Regions from separate parts of the Homo sapiens genome. Here region 2 is linked to region 1. Evidence: fine-mapped expression QTL. A gene starts in region 1. The other region holds a variant in brackets. All regions are shown on one strand. Distances are from middle to middle. Region 1 holds the start of PTER (phosphotriesterase related). Region 2 overlaps PTER (phosphotriesterase related).

What was found.
Region 2: its variant is fine-mapped to the expression of PTER in sun-exposed skin (GTEx, PIP 0.91).

The regions. Positions count from the first base shown.
Region 1 is chr10:16,433,276-16,441,614 of GRCh38, reverse strand. It overlaps PTER (phosphotriesterase related), which reads right to left and starts at 4,605. Exons shown (of 5, transcript NM_001261836.2): 1 at 4,568-4,605. RefSeq lists enhancers at 4,011-4,060, 4,081-4,260 and a silencer at 4,681-4,730.
Region 2 is chr10:16,507,926-16,516,264 of GRCh38, reverse strand. It overlaps PTER (phosphotriesterase related), which reads right to left. Exons shown (of 5, transcript NM_001261836.2): 5 at 2,520-5,219. The coding sequence ends at 5,009. C1QL3 (complement C1q like 3) reads left to right here. Exons shown (of 2, transcript NM_001010908.2): 2 at 1,558-2,531. The coding sequence ends at 1,737. Among named protein-coding and RNA genes, the nearest start is that of C1QL3, 9.8 kb to the left of the region's middle. The variant A/G (reference allele first, on the strand shown) is at 4,010.

The DNA.
Region 1 (8,339 bases):
TGTTAACCTCTAGGGAGACTGGATTTATAGCCAGTGTCCCCTAAGAATGCAGCACAGCTCTGTCCAAAGCACAATGCTCCCGGCTTGCCTTCTGTTTAACTCAGAATAAAAGAGTGAACACACTGCCCCTAGGACATTAACAGCAAAACCTAAGTCTGATACTCTTAGATCCGAAATCAGATAGCCAGGAAATCATATTTAAAATACTCTTTGAAGCTGCCTGAAAAAAAACGTATTAGTCAATGGTAAGTACGGATGATTCATTTCAAATGTCCTTCAGTGACAAAATAATTTCTGAAATGTATCCACTGATAACTGCATTTGGGAAGAATCATCTTTTCACAACTCACCCACGAACATTCCTCTGTATTGGAAAACTTGGAAGTGCACTGAAAATTGTTAAAAATATATAAATTGTGTTTTTCAAAGTAAAAATGAAAGCCTTGATTCTTATCCCTTCCAGGCATACAGCCTTTACCTATTTTACACTTTAACATGGTCTGCCCTTACAGAATGCAATTAAACATCTAAACGCCATTTTTGCCACTCTTGATTAAAATCACAAAGCAGACTGGAGCATGATGGGAACAGCACACCTGCCATCTCCCACACAGTAAAAGGAGCATGATTCATAGGACAAGCCTCTTTCAGGGCCCTCCCCACAGCTCCCAAGGTATCTGGTAAACCAGAGCCAGAAATCCCCGCATACATGCAGCTTATCTGATAATATTCATTACGCAGGCTTGACCAGGCTAGGCCACAGTAACACTCAAATCCCCGAATCTCAGGGTCTGACCACAACAAAAGTTTATTTCTAGCTCATCGAATACGTCTAACACAGGAAGGCAGGGGGCTCCGCTCACTGTCCTCTATGACCCAGGCTGAGACCACTGCCTCTATCTGGATGGTCACTGCGGCAGAGGGAAAGTGATTGTGACAAATCTTTCACTGGCTTTTAACACAGTTTTACCTGGAAGTGACACAGGTCACTCCACTTGCGTTTCGTTAGCCAAACAAGTCACGTGGACATACCTGCCTGGAAGGAGACAGGGAAATGGCTAACATTCACAGCTCTCACGCTGAGCAGGCACAGAGGTATTTGTACTCAGGTGGTTATTGTTTTGACAAAATAGGTACAACCACAGAGCCAGTTTATGCCAAATGGAACCAGATATTTTATTTTTCTTATTCTTTTTTCTTTTTCTTTTTTTTAAGAGATGATGTCTATGAATGAGAAGCCTTTTGTTATAAAAGTGTTATTAAGGGCCGGGCGTGGTGGCTCATGCCGGGAGGCTGAGGCAGGTGGATCACCTGAGGTCAGGAGTTCAAGAGCAGCCTGATCAACATGATGAAACCCCGTCTCTACCAAAAATACAAAAAAATTAGCTGGGCGTGGTGGTGCATGCCTATATTTCCAGCTAGTTGGGAGGCTGATGCAGGAGAATCACTTAAACCTGGGAGGCAGAGGTTGCAGTGAGTCAAGATAGGGCCACTGCACTCCAGTCTGGGCAATAGAGTGAGACCCTGCCACAAAAAAAAAAAAAAAATCTTGTTAGGAAAACCTGGACCACTGAAAATACACTAGAAACAACAGCTAAAGAAAACAGAACAAAGCCACATTTGATGTATGAAAATATATTCAACAACTACCTCAGTCAAGTTCATAGGGATACTGAGCAGACTCGAGCTTGATCAGAAATTCTCAATATTATTACTATATGGCTTACTAGGGCATTTAATAGATTTGAAGTTGGCTGGCTGCCGTGGCTCACGCCTGTAATCTCAACAGTTTGGGAGGCCGAGGTGGGAAGATCACTTGAGCCCAGGAGTTTAAGACCAGCCTGGGCAACAAAACAAGACCCCCCATCTCTACAAAAATAAATAAACTAATAAATATTTTAAAAAGAAGATATTTAAGGATAAACATTCCTCCTGTATGAATGGGTCCTGTATGTATGTATGTCCTGTATGAACACTTTGCACATGGAAGCAAAGGTGGACATTTACCAAGCTCCTCTCATGCTATACAGTTCATCATTTTGTCTTTAAGCTTAAAACTGAGACAATCTCTAAAATTCTTGCATCAGGGCTGCTTACTCAACTTAAAATAGTCACAGGGATCCTATGGCCAAGTCCTGGCACTGAGTACACGGTCATGTACTTCTCCAGATTCTAAATGATCTATTTTTGTGTTCTCTTACTCTCTGCTTCTATTTGGCTCAAAATTTACTGACACTTCAAAGGATATTAAATTGCATTTTTTTTCAGAAATGCTTCTCACTTTAGCCATATTGAAGGTATTTTCTGTCCTTCACAGGGAAGGGGAAATTTGCCCAGTGAAACTGATCTTTCCCTAAGTCCCTCCAGAAAAGCCACTGTCCTGATTTTCCTCCTGTCTCACTAGCCACCTTCTGGCTGGATACTCCGCTACTGACCTCCAAAATACACATTTATTGATCTTTGATTGAATAAACAGACCCTTCCTGACTACCTTGTAATTTCAGCAGCAAATATGACCCAAAACTGGAAGACCCTCTCAATCTATTCTGGTTTGAGGGCTGCCCAATTAAAAAGGAAAAAAACTGGCCCAAAATATCATTAAATGGTAAAATCAGGATCTTATCCTCATAAATCCATAGATTATTACATCCACTAGCGACCTAGAGACCACTTACCTTTTTTTTTTTTTTTTTTGAGACAGAGTCTTGCTCTGACACCCAGGCTGGAGTGCAGTGGTGTGATCTCAGCTCACAGCCGCCTCTGCCTCCCAGGTTCAAGCAATTCTCGTGCCTCAGCCTCTCCAGTAGCTGGGATTACAGGCATGCCCACCACCATGCCCAGCTAATTTTTTGAAGAAAAGAGGTTTCACATGTTGGCCAGGCTGGTCTCGAACTCCTGGCCTCAAGTGATCCACCTGCCTCAGCCTCCCAAAGTGCCGGGATTACAGGTGTGAGCCACCGCGCCTGGCCTGAGACCACTCACCTTAATGTGTCTAGAAAACAGGCAGGCCAGGCGCAGTGGCTCACGCCTGTAATCCTAGCACTTTGGGAGGCCGAGGCAGCCAGATCATTTGAGCCCAGGAGTTTGACACCAACCTGGACAAAATGGCAAAACCCCGTCTCTACCAAAAATACAAAAAAAAAAACAAAAAACAGAAAATAAAAACTAGCCGGGCGTGGTGGTGTGCACCTGTGGGAGACTGAGCTGGGAGGATCACTTGAACGGGGGAAGTGAAGGTTGCAGTGAGCTGTGATAGCACCACTGCACTCCAGCTTTGGTGAAATAATGAGACCTAGTCTTAAAAAGCAAGAGGCCGGGCGCGGTGGCTTACGCCTGTAATCCCAGCACTTTAGGAGGCCGAGGTGGGTGAATCACAAGGTCAGGAGTTCGAGATCAGCCTGGCCAGTATGGTGAAACCCCGTCTCTACTAAAAATACAAAAATTAGCTGTGTGTGGTGGAGCGCGCCTGTAGTCCCAGCCACTCAGAAGGCTGAGGCAAGAGAATCGCTTGATCCCGGGAGGCGGAGGTTGCAGTGAGCCGAGATCGCACCACTGCACTCCAGCCTGGGCAAGGGCGAGACTCTGTCTTTAAAAAAAGCAAAAGAAAACCAACTTGTAGAAAGTCACTGAGCTGGAACCAGAACTAGAATAGGGCTCTACTCTTTCTGGGTCCAAAGTTCTTTAAATCAGCAACCCCTCTTACTGCCTATGTAAGGGTATACCTTTAGTTCCTGTTGACTTGGGATGTACAAAGAATGAGGTAGTCTAAGAGAGTAACAGCACACTGGCTGTGGAGTCAGAAAGACTCCACCTCTAAACTTTGTTTCCATCTCTAAACTTTCCAGCAGTGTGGCCTAATTTTTCTGTACCTTAGCTTTGTCGTTATCACTAGAATCCTTCACAGGGCTGCAGAGTGGATTAAGCAAGAGTGCACAGGACTCAGACATATGACCGCTGGTAATTGGCTTTTATAAACTGTCAAAAAATATAGACCTGTAATGCCAGCACTTTGGGAGGCCGAGGCAGCAGACTGATTGAGCCCAGGAGTTCGAAACCAGCCTGGGCAACATGGCGAGACACTCTCTACAAAAAATACAAAAATAACCGGACATGGTGGCACGTGCCTGTAGTCGCAGCTACTCAGGAAGCTCAGGAGGCTGAGGCAGGAAGTTCGCTTGAGCTCAGGAGGTCGAGGCTGCAGTGAGCTGTGATCGCGCCAAATGCACTCTAGCCTGGGAAGCAGAGCCAGACCCTGAATCTAAAAAAAAAAAAAAAAAAAAGCTTATTAAAGGAGGCTTAGCACAGCTACCCGATGACGCCCCCGGGCATTGCTGTCGAGCCACAGGGAGCTGGCGCCACACGGGACTGGCGCTCTTTGCAACGTCCCTCAAGCACTTAAGGAGAGGCGGCAGGGCCCAAGCGCAGCGGCTAGAAAATCCTTCCTTCCGGCAGGACCCTCGCGTGGAGCTCTGCAGCGAACCCTGGCCGCGCGGCCTCCGCCGTCGGGCCCCACTCTTCCTACTGGGCCCACAGTTCCGGCTCCTGCTCTGACTCCAAGAAGCCTTACCTCGGGTACAACGCGCTGCCTTCTCCCTGGGAACTTCCGGCAGGCCAACTTCCCTGGCCTTTTTAGTCTCCCCTGTGCCCTCCCACTTCGCCCTCTGGTTCTCTCCCCGCCCCTGGCCCGAGGTCACGCCCTCACCGAGTCCTAGGACACGCCCCGTGGGTCCTTGCCAAGCCCTACCTCTTCGTAGGACACGCCCTTCAAACCCTTGCCACGCCCCACCCTGGTCCGGGGCCGTTCCCCGCGTTTTTGCCTGGCCACACCCTCCTGCAGGCGCTGTCTGACTGTCGGTAGTTTGGCTGAATGAAAAAAATTCGGGGCTAGATCCCCAAACGGAAAGAAACTGTTGCATTTTCCCCAGATCCCAGTTCTCCATAGAACAGTCTGGAACAAGGGAGCATTCCGTAGCTCTTTTGGTTTTCCCCAAGAATAAATCGGAGGTGGTGCTCTGGCAATTTGATGTCACAGTGGGTTCTGGATCCTCATGCTGCATACGGAGAACTTTGGTTTTTGTGTTCCCACTTGTCACTGTTTCCTGCCCCGGTGCCGCGTTTCCTTCTCTTTAGAATTAGAGTGCCGTGCTAGAGCACTTGAACTGGCCCTGGTACTTGCTGTGACTGAAATAAACTTAGTATGTGTGAGTCTGTTGGCAAAACATGATGCTTGGAGCAGCTGCCACAGTAAAGAGTCATACCTTTAGGTATTGTAGGGGGCCAAGGGCAAACCTCTCCTTCGTCCTCTGAAAGTTTGCTGAAAATCAACTGACAAAAGACAGTTTCACAGTAGAAAAGGCATACAAATATACTAGATCGTAACTTTATGTGATCCGGGAGCCTTCAGAATGAAAACCCAAAGATGCAGGGGAAACGGTCCATTTTTTCGCTTAGGTTCAATAAAGTATGGACCGCCATGTATTCAGCTGGTGCAAAAGTAATTGCGGTTTTTAATGGCAAAAACCGCAATTACTTCTGCACCAACCTAAGAGATACTACGATGGCATAAAAAGGGTCTGAGCTAATGCCAATAGACTAAGTGAGCAAGCCCTGTCTGTTTAGATTCTTTTTGGCTTTTCTGTGCAGTGTTCCTTCCTTCTGGGTATAGAGCAGGATCCTTTCTGGAATGGGGGTCTTATGACCTACAGTCAAACAAAGCAGGGCAGAGAATTTCTTTACCGCCAGTTTTGACACAGAAAGGCAGGGGACACGCAGAGTCAAACTTTTAGGTTTTATGCTTGGCTTTGGGGATGAGGGGTTCTGGCTTCTGTGAATCACCTTGGGGAAGAGGGATTCCAGTTTCTAGAATGAGGGGCCAGAGGCAGGAGGACATGAGGTTAGAGAGAGCTGCTTCTAAGGCCTTCATTTTGGGGTATCATTTTCTGAACCCCAACCATATTACACTGTCATCAATTATTATTATTATTATTTTGAAATGGCTCTGTTGCCCAGGATGGATTTCAGTGGTGCAGTCATAGCTCACTGCAGCCTTGAACTCCTGGGCTCAAGGGATCCTCCTGCCTCAGCCTCCTGAGCAGCTGGGACTACAGGTGTGCACCACCACACTCAGCTAATATTTGTAATTTTTGTAGAGATGGAGGTCTCGCTATGATGCCCAGCCTGGTCTCAAACTCCTAAGCTCAAAGGATCCTCCCACCTCAGCCTCCCAAAGTGTTAGGACTACATGCATAAGCCACAGCACAAGGCCTAGTCAATTAATTTTATCCTGAATTCTGAGAAAAAAGAGAATAGGTATGCAGATGGGCAGAAGCTACAGATGTCATTTCAAAGGAAAGTAGAGTTTTAATAATAATATTAATAGATGATGTTTATCGGGGCCAACTCTACCAGGTTTTGTAATGGGTGTATGTTATTTTGTTTAAGATTTTGAGCAACCTGCATGTGGCAGGAGCTATTTCCCTCCAATTACAGACAAGAAAACAAACTTAGGCAAGCACCTTGTTCAAGGATAGGACTAGGGACCCAGATTAGTTGATATCAGTCACTACACTTGCCTTCTTAGTAAAGAATGGGGAATTTTTTTGGTTTGTTTGTTTGTTTGTTTTTGAGACAGAGTCTTGCTCTGTTGCCCAGGCTGGAGTGCAGTGGTGCAATCTCACCTCACTGCAGCCTCCACCTCCTGGTTTCAAGGGATTCTCCTGCCTCAGCCTCCTGAGTAGCTGGGATTACAGGCACGCCCCACCATGCTCAGCTAATTTTGTGTAATTTTAGTAGACATGAGGTTTTGCCATGCTGGCCAGGTTGGTCTCGAACTCCTGACCTCAACTGATCCACCTGCCTTGACCTCCCAAAGTGCTGGGATTACAGGCGTGAGCCACCGCACCAGGAGAGAATGGGGTGCTTTGATAGGAGATTAATAGAAATAAATTAATTCATTTAAATCAGAAAAAAAGGAGGAGAAAAGGATATACAGGTCTCGTTCTCTGTTTTTTGTTTTTTAAGGGTAAAAGTACAAGAAGTCATTTAGAAAAGGGGTTGGTTGGTAAGGGACAGTCAGGGAGAAGATACTGAGGAAAAAATTGGTTCTTAAGGAGGGTGGCTGGGTAAATCCTAGAAACAGAAAAGGGATAAAAATAGGGCCCAAGAGTAGGAAAGACAAGAATAACTGTAGGGGTTAAGAACTGCAGAGGCATGAGTGCTGGGACAGTTGGATATTAGTAGCAATGACGGGCTCACACTGAGATTCTGTAATGAGGAGATGGATCCAGGGAGGCTTCTGGAGTGATTTCAGTGCTGGCTCCCACTTTGTGTGTGCTACAAGCATGGAGCCATATAAATGTGTACCCGACAGTGGGTGGTAAGGAGAGGCTCGAAAGTCCATTATTTATAATGTTACGTATTTTAGTAGTCTATGCTGCTAGATGTTAAATGATACATGAGGTCCTTGTTAAAAAATGACTTCAGGCCAGGCGCAGTGGCTCACGCCTGTAGTCCCACCACTTTGGGAGGCCAAGGTGGGCAGATCACTTGAGGCCAGGAATTGGAGACCAGCCTGGCCAACATGGTAAAACCCCATCTCTACTAAAAATACAAAAATTAGCCGGGTGTGGTGGTGCATGCCCGTAGTCCCAGCCACTCAGGAGGCTGAGGCATGAGAATTGCTTGAACCTGGGAGGTGGAGATTGCAGTGAGCTGAGATCATGCCAGTGCACTTCAACCTAGTGACAGAGAGAGACCCTGTCTCAAAAAAAAAAAAAATTGAAAAGTAAACTTTAGTTTTTCTTTATGGAAGTTACTAAATTCTCCACTGCCCACAGTAAATCCACTGAGCAAGATTTGTGATGGATTTCAAATGCACGCTCTTATTTCTGTGGCTTTACTCCTTAAAAAGATACTAGTAAAGAGATTTTATTTCTTTTTTGAAAGAAGCAGCTACAAAGAAATTTCAAATTAATATGCAGGAGATTTATTTCAGGAACTTTCTCAAACTATTGCCTACAGGTGTGTTCAAAGAAAGGCAGAGGCCAGGTGTTGTGGCTCACGTCTGTAATCCCAACAATTTGGGAGGCCAGGGTAGCAGATCCCTTGAGGCCAGGAGTTTGAGACCAGCCTGGCCAACATGGTGAAAACCTATCTTCCCTAAAAAAACAAACAAACAAAAAAAACAGGCCAGGTGCAGTGGCTCATGCCTGTAATCCCAGCATTTTGGGAGGCCGAGACGGGTGCATCACAAGGTCAGGAGTTCCAGATCAGCCTGGCCAAGATGGTGAAACCCTGTCTCTACTAAAAAACATACACACACACACCCACACACACAAAAC
Region 2 (8,339 bases), 75 kb before region 1:
ACTTTACTAAATTGGCATATATATTGGAGTCAGTGCTTCCAAGCATAATTACATGGTATATTGCTTTCATTATATTAGTGCCTGTTAGTACAGCGTTAAGCAATTCTAAATCCTTTAAGCCATTTTCTCCTTTTGCTATGTGATACCCAGAAAGACACTTTAAAGATACTACTCAAATGACTTTACAAGTTCAGCAGTGTTAAAGAGTCTTCTTTTTTTAACATTTCAGCATTAACGTGAGACTATATCACAAGAAAATTTAATTGGAAAACTCATCATTTAAATTTTGAAAGAAATGCATGGAAATTCTTGACTTCTGTCTCATTTCTCTCATTTTGCCAAGTGATAAAATCCAGCATATTGTACCCCAAATCATGCATTATTACATAGTGCAGGTTTACAAAACCACTAAATCACTTGCTATGTTATTCAGGGAAATATCATTATAGTGGAATAGAAATGAAACAAGCCACAAAGTAGAAGATGTTTTACTGAAATAAATCAAATCTAAGTCTGCCTGTTGAAAGATTTTCCAAGGCAGAATCACAATATATCTAAATGAATATGAAGCCTAATTTGAGCTAAGGATCTGACAGAATGTCCACAATGCATGAGATGATAGGCAATTTGACTGTTTGTAAATGTCTATCAACTCACTAATGAGATCACAGGCTTACCATGGGCAGATTATAAGCAGCCTCTGCCCTCAAATCAAGCCACATATTTAGAATCTCCTAAGTGTAAGTGGATATTCAACGAAATCATTCAAAAATTCTTGAAACTTGAGAGGCCTCAGAGCATGAAAATTTAGTCCTTTCTTTAACTTTTAGATATGTTGAGGTTAAATTCTTGATTTAAATGCACATGTCATAGTTAAGTAATAAAAAGACACGATGGAAAAAAGAACTCTGAAAACTCAGGTGATATAATCAAAGATGTATAAATGAGCTAAGCTTCTGAAGCAGCCTGGTAAAGGGGGCTTTACATGAATTAGATTTGGAAAGCCCTAAATCAAAAGACTTTTTCTTTTTTTTTTTTTTCTTTGTAAGTAGTAGAGGAGTTGGTATTTTCCTGGGTATTTTTAGCTATTACATACCTCAATTTTCTAATAATTGTGGTGAACAGCTGAACTTAGACTTGAACTTCTGTACTCATAAACAGCTGATTAGAATATTGCTATCTGGCTTAAATTAAAATGCAAAAAATACTATTAGTTTCATTTCAAAATGTGATTGGGCATAGGGATCGAAGGAGTTAGAAAAACGAGTGATACAGGAAGATAATAAATTGTATGCATAGTTTAGAATGTGTAGTTAGATAAGACTGCCAGAATGGTCCCCACTGAAGCACTATTTTGTCCCTTTCTGTCCTCCTTCTCACTAACGTAGCGGAAACTGCCACAGCACTATCCTCATAAAGCTCTGAGGTCAACATGGACTTTGCTATGCTAAATTCTGTACTATGGCAGCAAGTCAGCTTGTGATGCTACATGAATGGCAAAAAAGAAAACTTGAGAATTCTCATTTACGCATCCTAATTCTTGTCTGTTTCACATAGGTGCGTGCTAGTGCAATTGCCCAAGATGCTGATCAGAATTACGACTATGCCAGTAACAGTGTGGTTCTTCATTTGGAGCCGGGAGATGAAGTCTATATCAAATTAGATGGCGGGAAAGCCCATGGAGGAAACAACAACAAATACAGCACGTTTTCTGGATTTATTATTTATGCTGACTGATAATGCAGAAACTAAGCTTATTATTCTGAGTTTGAACACTGGATTCGTATGGCTAACGTCAGTGAATCAAGGATCCCAGGGGATGCCAATGGCAGGGCACCTCAGTTGTGTATATGTGGGGAAATCAAATGCTACCTGACTCACATCTGTATCACTCAGAAACATTATGTAAAAAATATCAAAGCAAGATAAGCAGATGTGTGATCCACTACCGCCAAAGCAAATACTCCTTATCGTTAGTGTCCATGTGAATGAAGTCCTATATAGATCACAAATTTTTATAGACAAATCTAAGACATTGAATTATTTCTTCTATATATATGATACTTTGGTGTACTGTGATCTTGCTGCTTTTATCCATATGTCAGCTTTGGTTCTTGTGAGTTTACCTGCTTATTATGATACTTGGAGTCCATTCATAGTGTGGGGAAGAATGATTTTTGCCCTGCAGGAGAAGGTCTAATTGAAATAATGCTGCTTGTCCCCAAAGAAATTGTTTGCCTTGTACTCTTGTTAACCTTAGAGCTAGACCTGGGAATGATTCAACTTCAAGCCTTAACCTGGAATTTTCTGGATTTGAGGGAATTCCCAAGCCTATGATCTTTTTCACATTTTCTTTTTCTTATATGAATTTTCTTTTCTCTCTTTTCTGGTGATAGTCTTTAAAAATAGAGATTGACAGTGTATCATAGGATTACCCTCTAAGTGTGAAAATGTGTAATTATGTACGGTATTTAGAAAAAGCCCTTATGTGTCCATTTTGTCAACTGAATACATTTAGATTCACTGGGAAAGTCAGAGAAATTTATTCTTTAGTATCAAATCAAACCGAGGCTTTTGCCATCTTTGGAAGAAAAGATTATTCATAACCCAATGCACAAAGGTTTAATTTGAGCTGCTGCATACGTCACCAAGGGGACACTAGGTGAGGCCTTCAAATGATTACTACAAGTCTGTGGCCTGAGGTTATTTTAAAATTAACAATTTCGCATATAGCCTATATGACAACAGAGTGTTTATATTTTATACAAATATCTGCTAAACATGCACACATATACTCACACACACATATATATATTAGATGAAATGTTTTATTTATGTATAAAACATATACATATAAAACATTTATATATATGGCTTTATTCCACAGGGCACAGTGGCTGTATAGCCTCAAAATTTTAATATAAAAAAGTGTATGCATATATACACACACAAACATGCACAAATTATTTAACTTATTTTGGGTTAAAATATATTTTGAATGACAATATATGGAGTAGCAAAAACAGTTAAAATGACTTCTCTTTAAGAGTTATCCAGAAAATTAATTGTATTAGGTCAAAATGCCCTTTATTTCACAGGTCTGTAAGTTAAGGCTATGGTTGCTCTATTACCATATGCCAATCAATACTTTAACTGCATTCTGTGACAGACTGTTAATATGAGGACTGCAGACACCAAGTGGCTCTCCTTTGCAGTGTTTATGAATTACATGCATTTGAGCTATCAATTTTTTTTTCTTTTTTCTCAGGTGGAGTGAAGCTGACAGTACAGTAGATTTGGAGAGTAATACAAATCCTTTCTTTCTGGTTAGAACACACTGCCAAAAGCCATCTCTTTCATCTAAGGAAAAGATTAAAAATGCATGTTGATATCTCCTAACTATCACACAACTTCCACTATTACAATGAAAAATCTGTTCCCCTTTCATTGCCTCTGAAAACTCTTTGACGAGTAGATTTCAAAAACAGAGATTTTAAAAATTTGCTTGCTTTACTGGTGAAGGACATTTGCATTTTTTTTTTTTATTTATTTAAAGGAATTAGTTTGTTCTCCTGGCTCATTCCTCTTTGTTACTTTCTGTTCCAATACACAGAAAGCTTGATCATCTTTGATCAGCAGAAATATCTTTTATTTAGCAAAGCTCAACTTCCCAAGAGTTATGCATGGTGTGCCTATCTGAAGGTGGTGTTAGCTCTGTTGAAATGCCTGGGTCTGAGTAACTGTCATGATTTTTATGATTAAAAACAGACTCTTCATCAAGAATAATGACTAATTCTAATTGGTCTTTGTGATATGTAAGATAACTCATAAATGAATTGCAATGGATTTTATTTCGAATTAACTATATATTTATCAAAGAGGAACTGGCAGCAAGGGTTTGGAGAATATTTTTAGGTACCAAATAGCATAGTGAGGATTCAACCAAAAGATGAATTTATAAGCAGCAGTGCCCATCACCTAAGTGTTTTAACTAACAGGTTTTAAAAAC[A/G]TTTTATTTACACAAAATATCAGGGCTGGATACCTTTTAAAGAGGAGGCTCAAGTATCGGGCTGTCATTTCCAATAGATCTGACCTTTTCTTCAGATACATAAGCATTATTTTCTCTGTTTAGGTCCAAGGAAAAACAAAAGGTAAAGGAAATAAAGGGAATATACATAAGGCAAACATTTCTCTTTTTTTTTTTGCATTATATCTTACCAATTAATTAAATTGTGGCCTTTGTTATTATAAATGTAATGATTCATTAAACTATATTATGTAATATATTTTGACTTTTATGATTGAATTTTTATAATTCAGTAGTGTTATGTGTTCTTATACAAACTTTGCAAAACAGCAAAATGTATGGCAAAAATAGATACCGGAAAGCCAAAGATATCAAAATCATTTCAGTAGAAGAATATATAGATAGGTGGACAGTATAAAATTAACCTTTCAAAATATTTTTATCATTGTGAATTGGTAATTGTATTACAGTCAGTATCCTTTGGGGAAAAAAGTCTCAAAATTTAACTTCCCTTGTTGCAGAAGCTATTTTACAGTGCCATATTATTCATTAAGCATTAATTAAAGAACAGCAGGATAATTAGTAGGATCATCAATATTACAAGAAACATTAGATCGCTCAAGAAGGAAATAATTTAACTAGAAACACTTTAAATTTTCTCAAGTAGTGCAGCTGATAGATTAGGGAGAAAAACAACAACTCCGCTTAGGGGATATAGACTTTAAATCATTGTTTAGAAATAGGTACTTCTGTATTTATTTTGTTAAGTTAAAATAATAGGGCTCAATTAGGCTGAGTAACTCCCTAGAGGCACAGTTGTAATAGCTGGTCTCAGAGAAGGCAAACCCTCCTAGTTCTCATCAGAAGGAAATGATCTGTCATTAGTCCTAGGTAACTGATTAATATCTCACAGTGGACTGGAAATCGCTGAATGTTCTCTGCAAGTTTTATACTCAAGGTGTGAATTCATAAGCAACCATCCTATTTGAAAGTTAGCCATTGCTTAGGGTTCTCTATTAGAATCTTATCAAGCACATTCTCAGTTATGCCTCTCAGCAACATTTTAGGAACAACATTGGTGAGTATATGAGAATAGCCGTGACCTCCATATTTCATCAGCCGGGTTTTCGTATGTATGTCATGTGCTACCAGAATTCGATCTTCACAGCCCTCTTCCACCAGGAGACGCACCCTGTGAAAAATGTTAACTCATTAGATGTCATTTGTCTTTCATTTTCGCTTTTCAGGATGCTTTCAACTTTTTACTCATTAACCTATTGTGCTTGTCGTAAAGATACTGACTTCTACTGTGGCGTGTGTACTGAGAGACCTTTAATAAATATTGTGTGGTGACGATAAAAATATTGCTGCATCCTAGCAGGAACATATCCTTATTCCATGCATACAGAAATTTCTAACCTGTGACATTTATGACCATGCCTGGCAATACCGCATTAAAGATAGCTTCTAATAGGATGTGCCAGTTTGGATGAATGACCATTTTGGCATTTCACTAAATAACTTTGTTCTGGATTTGTATTCAGCAATCCTCTCTCAAATGCCTCTCCCTGTGGGCCCATTTTTCAGATCTCATTCTTGCTCTCTCCTTTTATCTGGCCAAAAAATATCAAGGACTGTTTGCGATTAAAATAGGGAAACAAAAGGAATCTCACTACAAGTAAAATATTCTGAGAGCAAAATCAGTTGGTCTGCAAGTGAGGGGCATTTGATAAGCTACAAAGCCACTGAAAAAAGGTTGGTCAGCATTTTAACCATTTGCCCCTTTGAAGTCTATGGCAATTTTGATTTAGTTGTAGCCTCTGAGCATTGGATTAAACTGACCAATACAAATATATTCTGTCTTCTTTCCATGTCAGCAAGATTGCTAAAATAATAAGCTGTTCCTTTAAATTTATAGTCAGTGGACTAAAGAACAGCTTCCTGACTATTCTCTAAAAATGAAATCCTCTTTGCTTTGTTAAATGCTGGAATCTGTAGTGTGAGTCACCTCCTGACAGCCACCATCTGTACGTGTCTGGACTCTGGGCAGTGTCTGTCGTGACTTCCATGGGTCTTTGATGGTAGAAGATGCCACTCACAGACAATGGCTCTTCTATGGGATTCTCTGAATAGTTTTTTTGGCGTCTAGATTCTAAAGTGGATCTAGACGGACGGACAGTGCCTTCCTCCAGAGGCTGATTATTTGAAAGGTATCTTTTTTGTTTCAAAAGCATTTCTTGGTGTCCTAGTACATGAGTCATATTTAATAACTACTACAGTGAGCAAAACGTGGGGTACTACACACACAAAAAAAACTCAAGCACAAAGCCCTGCCCTCTGAGAACACATATTTTAAAATAAATTATAATGGAAGAATAGACTTTGTATCTGCAGGTCAAAGGAATGCAAGCACTAGCAGAGAAGAACCATGCCTGTCCTATAAGTGCATGTAATGACTTTTGTGCCACTATGATTTTTTGCCTCATTGAAATTTGTATACTATCCTGAAGTTCTGATCTGCAGTTACTTTTGGAACACACTCAGTTTAGGGGAATTATCTAAGATAAGTTATATTATCACATAAAAAGACAAAGATTTGACAGAATGCACACACAATACTGAAGCTTAGGGTGACAAACCTTGATCCACAACTGCAAAGAAGTATCACGGTATAGGAGGTTTTAGGAAACACTTTCTCCCTGATATTTTCTGGGCATTTTCCAAAATTTTTGCCTATGTTTCTTATCTGATAAATATAATTTCTCACACTATAAAGGCAGATCATGTGGATAAACAAATTCCTTTAAGATGTCCTTTGTCAGACCTTGAAACACAATGTTATCAAATCATGAAGTAGAATGAAAGAGTATAGAGGACAAGATACTCATACTTAAAACCGGGAATCCTTAGAACCCATTAAGTCAAGAATCTGGAGACTACTTATGAGAAAGATAACGTTATGGCTCTGGACACACAATCATATCCTGACTATGAAGAAAACCTGCCCCGTCCTGCTTACACTAAAAGATCATCTCTCCTGTTGTGCCATTATATGGAAGAACAGGAGTTACAGAGATGCTGCCAGAAAAGGGGGAGCCACTACAGACGAGAAGACAAAAAATCACGGTAATTATAGAAATACAAATGAGTTAGTGTTTGCAAACAAATATTAGAGAGAGACTACAAAGTGTGAAAAGGCAGAGATATAATAAGATTTGAGAAATGGAGCAGAAGATTGAAAACAGGTGTTAGACACAGAATTTCTGGTGCTGAACACCAGAGGTAGGCAGAAGCGTGCTTCTGTGTTCATGCACTTCAAGGTTTAAGACTACGATGGCTCAGAAAAGGACCCTGTGGTCCTTTCATGCATGATGAAAATCAAGTGTGCAAGACAGTGGGTACTGGAGCACACGCAACCCAAAAGGGCATTCAGTGCTTAACATGGGCTGTCCTTGGGTCAAGCGAGAATGCATGGTTTAATTTAAGGAAGATTAAGCACACACACATACACGTACGTATGGAATAGCACACAGGTATTTTATATATATATACACAGATTTATATTATAATAATTTTTATTATTTCCATACATCCAGAATAGCTATATTTAGCACAGTAAAGGGTAAACAAATGGCTAAAAGGAGCTAAGAAGGAATGCTGGGGGAGCCATCGGTCATCTGACCCTTCTATCTCCTTCACAGATGCCCCTTTACGGATCTTCTTTCTCTTGTTCTAGAAGGTCTGGGAGCCTCATGCGAGACACAGGTGTGCAAAAGATGCACCTCACTACCACAAAGGGGCTTCGGAAAAGGAAGCCGATCCAGAGTGCAAAGTTCCCATTTCCAAGATGATTTAGAAAACATGTGTTGAGGCCGGGCGCGGTGGCTCACACATGTAATCCCAGCACTTTAGGAGGCCGAGGCGGGCGGATCACGAGGTCAGGAGATCAAGACCATCCTGGCTAACACGGTGAAACCCCGTCTCTACTAAAAATACAAAAAATTAGCCGGGCGTGGTGGCGGGTGCCTGTAGTCCCAGCTACTCGGGAGGCTGAGGTAGGAGAATGGCGTGAACCTGGGAGGCAGAGCTTGCAGTGAGGTGAGATTGCGCCACTGCGCTCCTGCCTGGGCGACAGAGCAAGTCTCCATCTCAAAAAAAAAAAAAAAAGAAAAAGAAAAAAAGAAAAAAGAAATAAAACATATGTTGAGGGCATTGATCAGGAAATCATGTTTTTGAGATTGTGAAAGATGAGAATGACTGAATGCACTGCACTATTTTAAATTCCAGATGCCCTTAGGCAAGGAATAGTCTC